Regions from separate parts of the Homo sapiens genome. Here region 2 is linked to region 1. Evidence: fine-mapped expression QTL. A gene starts in region 1. The other region holds a variant in brackets. All regions are shown on one strand. Distances are from middle to middle.

Region 1 (8,457 bases):
CTGGATTCCATTATTAATCACAGGAAGGTCATCAGGACATACACAAACTAGAAAGAATCTAATTCAATCAATACTTTCTAAGCACTCTGTGTCCTGGACATTCCTATAAACACAAATAACTTCAGATTCAAAGCCCACCCAAGTGGTACATGCCATCTCAAGGTGGCAGAGAGGAATAAGTATTAGTACACAGTTCATAAGCATACCAACTAGAGCACACACGTATATATGCACAACACAAATATAAAACACACTTTTAATTTAAGCCTTTGGTGGCAAAAGGTAAGTAGAAAAATATCAAAGGGGGAAAAATCATATGTAGTGTAAACTAAATCACCCTTCCAAAGACACGTAATTTTGCAACACAGCTTAAGAATTCTAAAATATGGCCTGGCGCAGTGGCTCACACCTGTGATCCCACCACTTTGGGAGGCCGAGGCGGGTGGATCACGAGGTCAAGAGTTCAAGACCAGCCTGGCCAAGATGGTGAAACCCCCGTCTCTACTAAAAATACAAAAATCAGTCGGGAGCAGTGGCAGGTGCCTGTAATCACAGCTACTCGGGAGGCTGAGGCAGGAGAATCGCTTGAACCCGTGCGGCAGAGGTTGCAGTGAGCCGAGATGGCGCCACTGCATCCAGCCTGGGCAATATGAGATTCCATCTCAACAACAACAAAAAAATCTAAAATCTGGCCAGGCACCTGGCTCACACTTGTAATTCTAGCACTTTGACAGGCCGGGATGAAAGACTCACTTGAGGCCAGGAGTTCGAGACCAGCCTGGGCACACAGGGTGATTCCACCTGCGCGCGCGCACACACACACACACACACACACACACACACACAGCCAGGTGCGGTGGGTCACGCCTGTAATCCCAGCACTTTGGGAGGCGGAGGCAGGGGATCACCTGAGGTCAGGTGTTCGAGACCAGCCTGACCAACATGGTGAAACCGTCTCTACTAAAAATACAAAAATTAGCCAGGCGTGGTGACACGCGCCTGTCATCCCAGCTACCTGGCAGGCTGAAGCAGGAGAATGGCTTGAACCCAGGAGTGCAGTGAGCCAAGACCGCGCCACTGCACTCCAGCCTGGGACACAGAGCAAGGACTCCATCTCAAGTAAATCAGTCAGTCAACTAATCATCAATCAATATTCCTTCTCAAGTAGGATATCTCCAGGAACATGAAACAGGTCAACAGTGATTTATGTCCATACAAAAACATAAAGGGTTTTGTTTGACAAAACACCTCATTAATATCAATACAAAAAAAAAAATCACATTTTTACTAGTTGACTTTTCTGCAGGTAGGCGTTGTCGTTTTTCCATTCCTACATCATCGTTTCTAACATATTCTTGTTTTCACCAACTTTGCTCTTCTTCTCATTAACCTCATTTTTTTGAGTTTGATATTCTCAAATTCTATTCATCCTTGAACTACACCATTTGCTAAATCCTGCCACTGATCCTACTCTTACTCGCTAATGAGCCTGCAGTTACCCGCCTCTCACCACCAGGTGGGGTCCTGCACAAATTTAACCAAACCACATTTTGAACAGAATCATTTCTGAGGAAATGAAAAAGTTTTAAAAAGGTTTCCAAAAAACGCTGTTAATCCAGTGTGTAACCTCGATGCAAATAAATACTAAGAAGTAAAAATCCCGTCAAAACGTCAACTCACAAATACAAAGGCTAATTACATTCTCTTATTCCTCAACAGATATCTGTAAGCATTAACCAATATAGAAGCTGACCTTTACAGCAGACGACAGTAAGGTGTCTGTGCGGTCCCGCGGTGACACCCAGTCCACAGCGACACGTTCAGGATGACTAAAAATACCTGCCCAAGTTATGAAGTGCCCTCTTATAATACTCTTTAAAGTGACAGCCGGACGCGCGGGCTCACACCTGTAATCCAGCACTTTGCGAAGCCGAGGCGGGTGGATCACCTGAGGTCAGGAGTTCGAGACCAGCCTGAACAACATAGTGAAACCTCGTCTCTAATAAAAATAGAAAAAATTAGCTGGGCGTGGTGGCGCATGCCTGTAATCCCAGCTACTCGGGAGGCTGAGGCAGGAGAATCGCTTGAACCTGGGAGGCGAAGTTGCAGTGAGCCAAGATGGTGCCATTATACTCCAGCAGGGGCAAGAGCTAAACTCCATCTCACACACACACACACACACACACACACACACACACACACACACACAAAAGGCCGGGCGCGGTGGCTCATGCCTGTAATCCCAGCACTTTGGGAGGCCGAGGAGGCGGATCACGAGGTCAGGAGATCAAGACCATCCTGGCTAACACGGTGAAACCCCGTCTCTACTAAAAAAATACAAAAAAATTAGCCGGCTGTGGTGGCGGAAGCTTGAAGTCCCAGCTACTCGGGAGGCTGAGGCAGGAGAATGGTGTGACCCCGGGAGGTGGAGCTTGCAGTGAGCCGAGATCGCGCCACCGCATTAATTACGGCCTGGGCGACAGAGCAAGACTCCGTCTCAAAAAAAAAAAAAAAAAAAAAAAAAAAAAAGGTGCAAACAGACCATTCCACCCCCACCTCAGACCTGGATTTAGGTTATCTAGGTTGAAGACTGATGAGGGTGACGGGTACCACTGTCCAAAACAGAGTTAATAGAAGGGAATTACGGGCTTGCTTAAAAATGAAAGCTAATGTACGCCACTCAGTAACAGGTATCACACTGTAATACCATATGCATATTTTAGTCTTCACAACATTCAACACTCCCCACCTAGTGTTCCGGAAAAACTGTCCTACAGCCAGAATTACTTCCCAAACCTAACACTTTCATATCCAGAAGAAAATAAATTTTAAAACACTGTTTTGAAGAGAGTGCTGAACTCATCTCAAATTCTTTAAGAGCTCTGCCCTCTGGAATTCCCAACTTTCTCACCTTCCACAGCACAGATGAAGCCTGGACACTTTCCAAAAGCTTCCCAACCCCTTTGTTCTCCCACTTCCTGTCAAATCTCCACATCTACCAACTTAAGGCAACTTACTTCCCAAATTTCACAGCCTGCGTAATCCACAAAAACCCGCAGCTCGCTGAAGCGTGCATAAAAACTATTCATCCCTTTATCACGGAAGGCAGAAAGAAATGTGAAAGCACAAACTCCAAGGGAGCTTAAGGCCCTCAGGAGTGGAAACAAGTCTGGAGTCGGCGAGGCGCGGTGGCTCGCGCCTCTAATCCCAACACTTTGGGAGGCCGAGGCAGGCGATCACTTTAGGTCATAAGTTCGAGACCAGCCTGACCAACACGGTGAAACCCCCGTCTCTACTAAAAATACAAAAATTAGTCGGACATGGTGGCGAGCACCCGTAACCCCAGCTACTCAGGAGGCTGAGGCAGGAGACTCGCTTGAACCTGGGAGCTGGAAGTTGCAGTGAGTGGAGATCGCGCCACTGCACTCTGGCCTGGGCAACAGAACAGACTCCGTCTCAGGAAAAAAAAAAAAAGGAAGTCTGGAGTAAACCCAGAGAGAACGCGGGACGGGTGGACTGGCGGAGGAGTAAGGCGGCTGCATATAATTCCTTTCAGAAATCATGAATCGTTCTGATACGCAACACTATTTGGAAAAGTGCGGTTAAACACGAAGCAGCAGCAATCAAGCTTTAATGGTTAACGTCTGTTTCCTTTCTTCGGTCTTCACTCTAACTTTTCTACTAAATCAATAATTTGGCTTAAATTGTAGCGACAAATCCTTACTAAAATTCGCAACTCAATAAAAACGTTGAAAACTACAAAGAGCGCCGCTCAGCCTACTCTTCCCAAACAGGCTGAAGCCTCCGAGCTCGCAGGCGGCACCCCTTCGGTGGTGGCACGATCGTTCTACTTGCGCTGTTTCCTGCCCCGTTTACGTGAGAAGTTAGCACAGAAGTTTACGTCTGACTAGCAAACCCATCCTTTAAAAAATTCGCTAGTGCCAAAACCTTTCTCGAGCCAATATATGATTTGCAGTTTACACTGCGTGTGTCACTGACCTTCCTTAGGTAAGAGTTAATGTAAACTTCTTATATAAACTTCAGTTGCATCAACTACGGTGCAGATTCTTTAACGCAAAGCAAAGCAGACAAACATTCTGAGTGAGAAAGGCAGCCTGCTCTTCCACAAACTTCTGAACAATCCGTCCGGAGTTCTAGAAACAGGGCTTTGCGGTCCCCCACCTGCTTCTTCTCCCTCCGAACTTGGCGGCACGGCTGCGGCATTCCTGCTCCGCAAGCCACTCCCGTTTCTGGTTTCAGACGCGAGTGCGGGAGCCTTAGAAAAAGAAGGCGCTCCACGCCTCCCACGCTGCCGGCCCCGCCGAGCCCCAGCCGAGCCCCAGCCGGCCGCTCCCAGGCCGGGCCCCACCCCCAACCGCCGCCGCGGAGGCTGGGCCGCGTTCCGGCAAGGACGCCGGGCGGGGAGGACGCGGCCGGGCGGCCCCAGACCCCAGCCCCGGCCCCGGCCCCAGACCTGACCCAGAGGACCCCGCCCACCCTTCGCCCCGCAACCCCGGCCACGGCCCCCGCCCCGTCCAGTCCTTTCCCCGGCCGGCGACCCCGGTCACCCCCCGCGCTGTTGCCAGGCGCCGGGTGAGGTCCGCCGTCTGCCGGGCGCGCGCGGGGCCCTAGGCGACCTCCCCCGACCCTCGGAACAGACCCTCACCGAGGACAGAAGCGGCCGGTGGCGGGACGCAGGGGAGGCAGGGTGACGGCCCGAATCTCCTCACAGCTCCAGGACTGCTGCGCTGGTGGTGGCGGCGGCTCCTCGCGCTTTCCTTTCTCTCCTTTCTCCAACAACAAACAGGAAATGCGTCACGCGGCGGCGGCACGGCGGCGTCAACTTCCGCCCGACCCTGACGCCGCGCATGCGCAGTTTCCACTGCCCATACCGCGGGCCCAACCTCGGGGGCGCCCGCCCCACCTTCGCGAAGGTTCTCGGCTCTTCCGCCGCCCCGAAGAGCCCAGGAGACTGGGGGCGAGGGGGCGGGGAAGCCCAGGGCGAGGGGGCGGAGCTCGGGGCCGGGTCTACGGTACCGGGGAGCCCAGACGCGCGGAAGGCACAGAGAAGGCCGAGAAGATTCCAAATGGCACTTATTGTTGGGCCAGAAGGAGCCCATTCTGGAAACCGCGAAGTCGTCGCGCCCTTCATCTTCCTCTTGACCGGCGGCCCCCGGAGCGCGTCTGCCGCCTCTCGCTCCGCGGTCCTGCGGTGGAGCTGGGTGGCATCTCCGCACAGCGGGACGAAAGCTGGGGCGCGGGCGCGGGCGCGGGCGGAGAAGTCCCCGAAGGAGAAGAAGAACAAACCAAGCGGCGGCCAGCGAAGGCGGGCGAAGGCGCCGGCCCCCGCTTGTCAATTTAGGGAAGCCCGGATACCCTAAGTTCCCCGGCGAACGGGAGCGCGTGGAGACTTCGCCAGGGAATAGTGACTGAAGGAAACGGAAGCAAACTGTGGCAGAAAATACAGATGAAGCTTTTTAGGTTAAATCGTGGCAGTAGTTTTTCTGAAAACGCGGCGCATTTTGATAGCTGGACTTTAGGTCATCCCCAGGCTTCCTAGCCTTTCCCGCGTCCTCAGGGGTTCTGGTTCTAACCCTGGAGACCAACACCACATGCGTGTAGATGGTGACCAGCAGGAGCAGGGAGTCTCAGACCCAGTGCAGTCAGACAGGCTCCCATTCCCAGTAGCGAAAGGGTCCCGCAGACCCAAAGCCTAAGGAGCCAACAAGCAGTTCGTCCATGGAGCCTGGCCTGGATCTCCCACTGTCTTCCTCTCCAGCATTCAGCCAGATGTTTGCTACTGTGTTGTCTTAGTCCTGGCCCACCTTATCCTTTCCTTTAAGAAATAAAAATCTCAACTGGGTGCGGTGGCTCACGCCTGTAATCCCAACACTTTGGGAGGCCAAGGCGGGCGGATCACCTGAGGTTGGGAGTTCGAGACCAGCCTGACACATGGAGAAACCCCGTCTCTACTAAAAATGCAAAAAAAATTAGCCAGGTGTGGTGGTGCATGCCTGTAATCCCATCTACTGCAGAGGCTGAGGCAGAATAATCGCTTGAACCCAGGAGGAGGAGGTTGCAGTGAGCGGAGATCACACCATTGCACTCCAGCCTGGGCAACAAGAGCGAAACTCTGTCTCAAGAAAAAAGAAAAATCCCTTTTTGTTACACCTTTCCTGAACTTCAGATCCTGTGGCATGCTGACACTGAATTCCGGGGGCCTGCTCAGCCACCTTCTGAACTAACAACGCTTATGAATTCGTGATCGTTTAAGCCTGGGAGATATTCAAGTAAAAGGCACTTTAACACTTGAATCACTTTTGGTTTAAAATAGCTCGTTAGTAATGAAAGAGTTGGAGAAATGCCACCCTGAATTATGCCATATTAGGATACTGATTACTAACTAGTTCACTGATTACCACATTAGTATGCCCTCAAACTGAGGGCACATGGGGACCTGCCAATGCAGGGAGGGGCATTCTGTGAATCCCCCATTATTTACATAAAGACAGATCATCCCAAAGGGACTCAATTGTCTTGACCCCCTCCCTGGAAGTCTCATCCAGGGAAGAATGAGCCAGGATCACGGGAGAAGAGCTTCAAGGGACGTCAGCTGCACACCCAGACAGATTTTGCCACAGGCCACCACCTATTCTGAAGGCAAAAAATCATTTTCTCTCCCCTGAGCTGCCTGCATCTGCCTCCCCTCTCTTCTATGAAGGGGCTGTATAAGCTTCCAGATCTCACTGGATTCTGGGATGCCCTAGTACATGTTATAGATTTGTATACTTTTTCTCTTACGAATCTGTCTATTGTCAGCTTAGTTCAGAGACTCAGTTGTGAAACCTTCAGAGAGTACAGGGAAAATTTTCCGTCTACACCTGCCTCATTTTAGACAACTGGAACACTTGGTTAATGGCTGTAATTGTTATACTTCAAAATGAAATACTGCCCTTTTTTTTTTTTTTTTTTTTTTTTTTTTGAGACAGGGTCTTGCTCTGTCACCCAGGCTGGAGTGCAGTGGTTCAATCATGGCTCACTGCAGCCTTAACCTCCTGGGCTCAAGCAGTCCTCCTGCCTCAGCCTCCCAAAGTGCTGGGATTACCAGCATGAGCCGCTGTGCTGGGCTCATTTTTTGTGTTTCTTAAACTTTAATTGTATTACTGCATGTCATTTCTAGCAAATGATCAGTTAGCAAAGGAAAATCTGACTGGATTCTCTATTCTTATTTGAGACTGAGTCTCTCTGTCTGTCCTCCAGGCTGGAGTGCAGTGGCACAATCTAGGGTCACTGCAACCTCCACCTCCCAGGTTTAAGTGATTCTCTTGTCTCAGCTTCCTGAGTAGCTGGAATTACAGGCATGAGCAACCATGCATGCCTAATTTTTTGTATTTTTAGTTGAGATGCGGTTTCACAATGTTGGCCAGGCTGGTCTCAAACTCCTGACCTTAGGTGATCCACCCACCTCAGCCTCCCAAAGTGCTGGGATTACAGGCATGAGCCACCAAGCCCAGCCTCTATTCTCTTTTTTTACTGGTTATATAAATGACTGTTCAAAAGGAAGAAATAATAGTTTGTGTTAGTATGGGCATCTCATAATAAAACCTAAAATAATCTCAGCAAAGACTGGAATTTCAGATATGTGCACAGCTTGGCACTGTCACATGTAACCTATCTGCTTGCAGATTGATGGAGGTTTAGTTCCATCTCAGTGTGGACAGACAGTACTATCATGGGACATTTTACATGTCAATACGTCCCTACAGTGATTGTGAGCTCATCTTGAAATGTAAGCAGCACAGACATGAATTTTACATTGTAAGTGGTAGGCTAGCCACAAATAGCTTTTCCCCCTTCGAAAAAGAAAATATATGTGTGTGTATGTGTGTGTGTGTATATATATATACACACACACACACACATTAAAACGCGTATCAGGCTGGTCACAGTGGTGCACACCTGTAATCCCAGCACTTTGGGAAGCTGAGGCAGGAGGATTGCTTGAACCTAGGAATTCCAGACCAGCCTAGGTAACACCGCAAGACCCCATTTCTACCAAAAATAAATTATTTTTTTCTGGCACTTTGGGAGGCCGAGGCGAGAAGATTGCTTGAGCTCAAGAGTTCGACAGCAGCCTGGGCAACTTGGTGAAACCCCATCTGTACAAAATATAGCAAAATTAGCCAAGTGCGGTGGCACACACCTATAGTCCCAACCACTCAGGCGGCTGAGGTGGGAGAATCACCTCAGCCCAGGGAGGTCCAGGCTTCAGTAGAGCACCACTGTACTCCAGTCTAGGCAACACAGACCCTGTCTCAAAAATAAATACATAGAAAATTATGACCAGGCACAGTGGCTCACGCCTATAATCCCAGCTCTTTGGGAGGCTGAGGTGGGCAGATTACAAGGTCAGGAGTTCGAGACCAGCCTGGCCAACATGGCGAAACCCCATGTCTA
Region 2 (8,457 bases), 33 kb before region 1:
CTAAGGCAGGAGAATCACTTGAACCCGGGAGGTACAGGTTGCAGTGAGCCGAGATCACGCCACTGCACTCCAGCTGGGCGACAGAGTGAGACTCCATCTCAAAAAAAATGAGATACTTCCAAAAAACAGCTCCATCTCAACACGAGGAGTTCTCAAATACGCACACAACCATACATGAGTTTGGCATGTTCTCCAAGAAACTCTCACCAGATGAGAGGAAGAGCGCGTGGGGATGCCGGGCGGGACTGCCCACTGCTTCACGACCATGTGAAATTACACACAAGGATGGTTCCAACAACTTTAGCTGGAAACCAGTCTCGTACATCACGGTTTCATTTTTTAACCTTTTTTTCTTAAATTTTTAGAGATGGCATCTCATTATTTTTCCCAAGCTGGACTCGAACTCCTGGGCTCAAGGAATCTCCTACCTCAGCCTCCCCAGTAGCTGGCATTACAGGGGTACACCACCATGCCTGGCTTAGTATGTGATGTTTTTATGTGTATTTAAAAAGACTCCTTAACTTCTTCTAAGTGACCTGTGTGTAGGTGTGCCTGTGTATGAACTCTGTCCAAAGTAATCAAAGAACACTCATTACAAACAAACTGCTGTAGCGCCGTGTAATGATAGTGGGTCCAGGTCACCAGCACACACCGATCCAATCTGCTGTGCCACTCCCATGCCTGTACTTGACCCCTAACTTCTAGCTCTCATTAACACATCTAACTTTGGCCAGGCATGGTGGCTCACGCATGTAATCCCAGCACTTCGGGAGGCCAAGGCAGGCAGATGACCTGAGGTCAGAAGTTCGAGACTAGCCTGGCCAACATGGTGAAACTCCGTCTCTACTAAAAACACAAACATTAGCCAGGTGTGGTGGTGGGTACCTGAAATCCCAGCTACTTGGGAGGCTGAGGCAAGAGAATCACTTGAACCTGGGAGGCGGAAGTTGCAGTAAGCTGAGACTGTGCCACTGCACTCCAGCCTGGGTGACAGAGCAAAACTCTGTCTCAGAGCGAGGGGTGAGGGCACATGTCTAACTTTAAAGGTTCCTCCTCCTTTCACCTTTCAAAATTTGCTGCTTGGCTGTGAATTTCAAAGACTAGCACAAAAATCTACCCGTTAGAAATATGATGTTAAAGTGGTTGAATCATGGTCCCCAAAAAAGATTAAATTAGAGTCCTAATCCCCAGTACCTGTGAATGTGACCTTACTGGGAACAGGCTCTTTATAGATTATCAAGTTAAGATGAAATCATTACAGTGGGCACTAAGCCAATATAAATGATGTCCTTATAAAAAGGGGGAACTTGTGGCTGGGCACAGTGGCTCATGCCTGTGATCAGTTACTTGGGAGGCTGAGGAAGGAAGACTGCTTGAGCCTAGCGGTTGGAGGCCAGCCTAAGCAACACAGTGAAATCTGTCTCTAAAACATTAAATCCAATGGACACAGAGACAGACACAAAGGAGATGATGTCAACATCGGATGGGCCATCCGTCTGCAAATGTAGGGAGAAGAACAGCTGGGGAAGGGCCTGGAGCAAGACGGGACACATCTCAGCCTCAGAAGCAACCAGCCCTGCAATACCTGGGTCTCACATGGCCAGCCTCCAGGACTGGGAGATGGTACATTTTGGTAGTTTAAGCCCCCGGTTTGTGGTACGGATCAAACTCAAGGCTGTCTTCAGGGTCTGTGCTCTGGCTTCTAGGGAAAGAGCCTACGAGACGCCCGGCCTGTGCTTCAGGGCTGCCACCTCCCTCTCTTGCTTCTTCAGTTCTATCTCCAAGGCAGCTGAGGTCGTCTGACCAAGGACAGTATCAAGGCACTAGAGGAAACCATTTTATTCTAGATACACTGTTTTAAGTCAGTCCCACTCGGGCAGCTCCTTGACACTTTATGGTGGTGCCGGCAGCGCCCCAGCTCTGGCCCGCTGTGCTCCTCCTCACTCAGCGGCTCCTCGCACTCCTCGCCGAGCTCCTCTACGTCCCCAGGGCTGGCCCCGTCCTCGCTGGATATGAGCCCCAGCTCCTCGCTGAAGGGCTCGCCCAGGCCCCAGTTACATCCTGTGCAGGCCTCGTCCTCACTAGACAGTGCCAGGTCCTTGCTGGATATCAACACATCCAAGGCCTCACTGTTCTCTTCACCAGGGCTGTCCTCTGTGGCCTCCTCCACCCTGGGCAGCTCTACTAACTCCTCACTAGGCTCCAAGTCCTCACCGGCCACTTCCTCAAACCCTGGGAGAGTAAAATGACTGACTACTATCATAATTTAATCACAGGTCAGAAAGTCAGGTTACTATCCTCAATGCACTCATTTTTCCTGCAAGAAGTCTGCTTTCCTTGGTTCTACATACCACAGGACTCCTCCTCTATTGCTACAGAGCATCATTCGTACCACAGTGATGCTTTACAAAGGAAAAACTTGCTGCACTGCTAAAATAAAAGGCCTCTCTGGAAACCTTAAAGGTTCGCTTTGGTTTTCCAAGAATATAAATAAAATGTGAAGTTAAACCCACAGGCTTTTCCCAGATGTAATGCCTGCTGTGACTAATGGGATCAAAAGGCACTATTATCAGGTACCCTTTCTTTCCTATCTCAGAACATCATTTCACTGAGCAATAGGGTCCTCTAATAATAAAATAAAGAGAGCATCCTAATTCAAATAAGTCCACTGCCTATTAATATTTTCCAATTAACATTTCGACAAGAGCTCATTTGCATGTGCTCCACATTCTGGAAATTTCGACAGTCACCTAGCCTCAGCAGTTTTGATTGTACCCCTCCAATTCAGAGGCAGCATTCCTTCCAGGCTGGTGTTAGAATCCGCCTCCGCGACCTCTCCTGGGAGGGCTTCTTCTGTAAAGGACGGGTTCCACACCGCAGGCCCCAGGCCCAAGTCTCCTTGGCCACAGTGTGACAGTGAGCACTGCCTGGTGCTCAGGCACAGACCTGCATACCATGTGTCCAACATCCGGCACCCCTTCACCCTTCCCCACCTATCATGAGGGAGGTCTGAAGTACAGCAGGGGTTCTGCATTCTGATAAATGTAAAGTGCAGCTCGGAAATATCTTACAGCACATTTTAAACTACTTTTTCGTCACGTGGAAAGTACACCAGGTCTAGTAAATATGATTTGTCAACAGCGGTCCCCAACCTTTTTGCCACCAGGGACTGGTTTCATGGAAGACAATTCTTCCACACAGTGGGTGATGGGTTGGGGTAGGGGGATGGTTTCAGATACTGGATTCTGATGAGGAATGCGCAACCTAGGTCCCTCGCGTGTGCAGTTCACAATAGGGTTTGTGCCCTTATGAGACTCCAATGCTGCCACTGAGCTGATAGGAGGTGGGGCTCAGGCAGTAATGCTTGCCTGCCTGCGCGCCGCTCACCTCCTGTTCCCAACAGGCCAGTTCGTAACAGGCCACAGACCAGGGTGTTGACCCCTGAACTACATCATGAATAAGCGGAAATCCCTCTGGCTCTGCATCCACACCCATCTACATTAAACATACCGTCAGCAGGCTGCTCAGTGACTACATACATATAGCAGCCATGGAGCAGCAGCTTCCCCAGTGTGTAAATCCTGAGAGCCTGAAAATGGAAGTCATCTAGAACACCTATAAGAACGGAATGAACAAGTATCACTGCCACACTAATCATGGGAAACACAGGGTACCTGGTCTTAAAATAGGTCTGCATGTAAAATGGAGCATTTAACAGTAAAGCGCTTCAGTAAGACTAGCACCTCTCTCCTTGGACTAGGGGTAAAAACTCACTTATTCACTCACATCTAATTAGATCTCTATACCTTCTTTACAAGTAATTGCTCTATGGCTTGGTGTATCAGATTATTTTCCCCAAGGAAAACAAAAATTAGCTACAATTCAGTCACTAAGGGACCCTTCCCCTTTGAATTAAAATAATAATCATAATGTTAAGAAAGGACCTGTTTAATCATAATGTTAAGAAAGGGCCCATTTAATAATAATGTTAAGAAGGTCCTGTTTAATAATCATGTTGAGAAACGGCCTGTTTAATAATAATGTTAAGAAGGGGCCCGTTTAATAATAATGTTAAGAAGGGGCCCATTTAATAATAACGTTAATGAAAGGCCGGTTTAATAATAATGTTAAGAAAGGGCCTGTTTAATAATAATGTGAAGAAAGGGCCTCTTTAATAATAATGTTAAGAAGGGGCCTGTTTAATAATAATGTTAAGAAGGGGCCCGTTTAATAATCTTAAGAAGGGTCCCATTTAATAATAATGTTAAGAAGGGGCCTGTTTAATAATAATGTTAAGAAGGGGCCCGTTTAATAATAACGTTATGAAAGACCTGTTTAATAATAATGTTAAGAAAGGGCCTCTTTAATAATAATGTTAAGAAGGGGCCTGTTTAATAATAATGTTAAGAAAGGGCCCGTTTAATAATCTTAAGAAGGGTCCCGTTTAATAATAATGTTAAGAAGGGGCCTGTTTAATAATAATGTTGAGAAGGGGCCTGTTTAATAATAATGTGAAGAAGGGGCCCGTTTAATAATAACGTTATGAAAGGCCTGTTTAATAATGATGTTAAGAAGGGGCTCGTTTAATAATAATGTTATGAAAGGCCTGTTTAATAATAATGTTAAGAAGGGGCCTGTTTAATAATAATGTGAAGAAGGGGCCCGTTTAATAATAACGTTATGAAAGGCCTGTTTAATAATAATGTTAAGAAGGGGCCTGTTTAATAATAATGTGAAGAAAGGGCCTCTTTAATAACAATGTTAAGAAGGGGCCTATTTAATAATAATGTTGAGAAACGGCCTGTTTAATAATAATGGTAAGAAAGCCCTGTTTAATCATAATGTTAAGCAGGGCCTGTTGAAGACGCCCGGTCTCAGACATCACGAGGACAGCCCGTTTCACCTCGTGTGCCCCAGAAGAGAAGCCATGGTGTTGGAAGAGCGGGCCTTCTTCCTCGCTTGGTCACCATGAGAATCACCGATCAGAACACAGGACTTCAACCC[A/G]AACACTGCCCTGTCCTGCAAAGCAACAAATGCAGTTTGCTGAAGGCTACAGCAAGATGCAAAGGTCATTTTTAAGACAGAGATCAATCCGTAAATTATTTTTCTTAGAGAAATATTTCTTGCCTGTGAGGGTTGATGAAGGACGGATGTAAACATGGTTCTTTCTTGAGCTCTGTTTCTGCTGATGGCAGCAGTGATTACAGCAAATGCACTTAAACGATGAGCACGCCAGTCTCCCGGTCCCCTAATCGGAAATCGCCTGCTCAGCTTCAGTTTCCCTGAAAATGCTTGAGGCCACTGACTGTCCTTCCTCCCTCAGAAAGGGGCTCTCTTCAAGCCAGCCAGCCCATAATAAGGTGTAAGAACAACCTCTTTGAATCCCCATTTGAGACACACTGAAGAACTGCACCATGCAAAAGGCCCAAGACCTACCAGATATGAGAGTGATTATGCTTCTTCGTGCCTGCGGCAGGCAGGAGCTCCACGTTTCTCCCCTGTATTATCTGTAGACACAACTACTCTTCTCTTTCCCTCCTCGAGTTGCAGGTGGTGTTCAGTTTCTTCACCCAAGCTCCAGGCAATGAAGGAGGTAAACATACAATGTGTTTCCCTTTCAATAAGTCAAAAGACAAAAACAACTACAGGAGTACATGTTTAATCCTGACCTCTCAGGTCACCCAGTGCACCACTCAGGAAGTCCCAGTGGTTGAGAAGACTCTAACAGGAGACAGCTAACAAAAGTGCCTGACCCAAACTGTGCCCAAGACATACACCAACGCCTAGGACCAGGCATCAGGACTGAGATGCCACTGATGAGAAATCCATTTTCCTACAATCAAACAGCAGCTATAACAGCACTGTCTCCCTTAACAAAACCATTCTCTCCTCAGCAAAGGCCTCCGCAGTCTTGCTCTAGAGGTGCCTTTCCGCAAACTCTCAACAACAGTCCTCACACACAATGTTTACGGATGAAAGGTCTTGCCAACAGTACTATGGTGCTTAATGATTTTACCAGGAATATGATGTGGCAAATTCACACACCAATTGGTTGTTCAATGGGAAACAACGTTTCCAAGACACTCGCACCCATGCCCTTACCACTGTCTCTTCTGAGGGCAAAAGCAAGTTAATTAAGGCCATACATAACAAAGAAAAAAATACATTAAACCCTTTATTATTTTAATTTTTCAAGCTGTAACTTAAATTTTCAAAGAGGAAGAAGAGAAAAGATTTTACAGCTACTGTGCTGTTTTATTTTTTTGAGACAGGGCCTTGCTCTGTCACCCAAGCTGGAGTGCAGTGGCCCAATCTCAACCTCCCAGGCTCAAGGAAATCCTCCCACCTCAGCCTCCCAAGTAGCTGGGACCACAGGCACACGCCACCACACTCAGCTAATTTTTAGTATTTTTTTTGTTGTTGTTGAGACAGGGTTTCACCATGTTGTTCAGGCTAGTCCAATGCTGCTTTAAACACAAAGTTTCGTGACAAAATACAATGTTAACTTTTTTTTTTTTGAGACAGGAGTTTCACTCTTGTTGCCCAGACAACAATGCAATGGCATGATCTCAGTTCACCGCAACCTCTGCCTCCCGGGTTCAAGTGATTCTCCTGCCTCAGCCTCCCAAGTAGCTGGGATTACAGGCATGCGCCACCATGCCCGGCTAATTTTGTATTTTAATAGAGACGTGGCTTCTCCATGTTGGTCAGGCTGGTCTTGAACTCCCAACCTCAGGTGATCTGCCCGCCTCAGGCTCCCAAAGTGCTGGGATTACAGGCATGAGCCACCGCGCCCAGCCTAAAATACAATGTTAATTCAACAGAAAGGCCATACTAAGTAAGCCCTCATTTGGGTCATGGACACACACCAAGTCAACCCACGTGATTAACTTACCAAAGAAGTCAAATGAAAATGGGTCCCTTCCACCAAAAAATTCCCTGAAGACATCATCTGGGTTACGGAATGTGAAGCCAAATTCAAATGGACTGTCAAAATGACTTCCACCTGCACAAATACAACACAGCTTTTAGTTTATGAATTTTGGTGCTTTGTAGGCAAAGAATTCTTTGTTGACAAAACATTATACAAATCATGAACTAATAAAAACAAAAATATTTCATAAACCTGAAGTTCTCTATAATTCAAAACATGAGCCCTGTACTGACAGAGAGTGAGTGTGCCCAGCGCTGATGGCATATGAGTGCAGCAGTGGCCCCTTCGACACTACTTTTCACCATCTCTAAATCCGTGATCGGCATATAACATGTAACATTACACACCATTTTTATGATTTGTTATGAAGGTTTATGAAGACCAAGAGTATCTGCATCCACTTCGACGACTGGCCTCCTGGAGCCACAGAAGCTGCCGCGTGGCCCCAGTGGGTTTGGAGCAATAATTTCCCAACACCCCTGGGGAGGCTGGTCACAGCCCAGTGACCGTGGGAACTTTTGGGGACAAAGTCCACGCCCTTCAAAGTCATTATTTTAGCTTTTCAGGAAAATCTGCTCTTTAAACCCTTAGGATATTTTGACATAACGTCAAGTGCTGATCTAAGGGTATATGTTCACAATATATTGCAGTATGGTTACAAATTGTTTCTATCTATAAAAAATACATCAACATATACTTCTAGTCTCGTAAAAGACTTTTAAATGCCATCAATTTCTCTGTCCTCTCCCCAATTTAGTTCGCTTTCTACGTTGCATCTCTATTTACTGATACAAAATCGACTCTGACCAAGAGACTCGTGATTTACAAACTCAACTTACTTGCCAAGACCTTTTGTCTTCAAAGAAAAAACTCACGTACTTACCTCCTCCTCCACCATTTAATCCTTCTTTGCCATATTTGTCATAGATGTCCCGTTTCTTAGCTAAAAATTGAAAGAAAAGTCGGTAAGGCCAAGTTCCTTTTAAACCCTTAATTCAATAGATAAGGTATTTCCCCAGTTGTAAATCAGTTTTCGATGTTTTACAACTGAATTTCAAGGAGTATGGCCACCTTTTCTTTAAAACAAAACAAAGCAACAGGGAAAACTTTCTGTACCTCTCTCCTGAAAAACAATTCAAAAAAAATTCAGTATGTTGAATTTTTACAAGTTATTAGAAATATTTAAGTATTTACGGCCAGGCATGGTGGCTCACACCTGTAATCCCACCACTTTGGGAGGCCAAGGTGGGCAGATCACCTGAGGTCAGGAGTTTGAGACCAGCCTGGCCAATATGGTGAAACCTCATCTCTTGTAAAAATACAATAATTAGCCAGGCGTGGTGGCAGGCACTTGTAATCCCAGCTACTCAGGAGGCTGAGGCAAGAGAATAGCTGGAACCCGGGAGGCGGAGTTTGTGGTGAGCCAAGATCGTGCCATTGCACTCCAGCCTGGGCAACAAGAGTAGGCGCGGGGGGGACTTAGCCACGCGAGGTAGCTCATACCTGTAATCCCAGCACTTTCA

Direction of the effects. Positions count from the first base shown, and alleles are read on the strand shown. Sizes are in standard deviations (SD) of each study's normalised expression.
As copies of A replace G in region 2, the expression in subcutaneous fat of the gene that starts at base 4,807 in region 1 goes down (small effect, 0.21 SD a copy in GTEx).

The links. PIP is the estimated chance that this variant, and not a neighbour inherited with it, causes the effect.
Region 2: its variant is fine-mapped to the expression of DNAJB6 in subcutaneous fat (GTEx, PIP 0.96). The same link has a PIP of 0.9 or more in gastroesophageal junction.

Annotation. Positions count from the first base shown.
Region 1 is chr7:157,333,354-157,341,810 of GRCh38, reverse strand. DNAJB6 (DnaJ heat shock protein family (Hsp40) member B6) reads right to left here and starts at 4,807. Exons shown (of 10, transcript NM_058246.4): 1 at 4,667-4,807. RefSeq lists enhancers at 752-1,272, 3,575-3,624, 4,353-4,856, 4,857-5,359, 7,629-7,708 and silencers at 4,285-4,474, 4,535-4,744, 4,935-5,094.
Region 2 is chr7:157,365,922-157,374,378 of GRCh38, reverse strand. It overlaps DNAJB6 (DnaJ heat shock protein family (Hsp40) member B6), which reads right to left. Exons shown (of 10, transcript NM_058246.4): 4 at 7,818-7,877; 5 at 6,896-7,006. Among named protein-coding and RNA genes, the nearest start is that of DNAJB6, 33 kb to the right of the region's middle. RefSeq lists a silencer at 754-952. The variant A/G (reference allele first, on the strand shown) is at 5,005.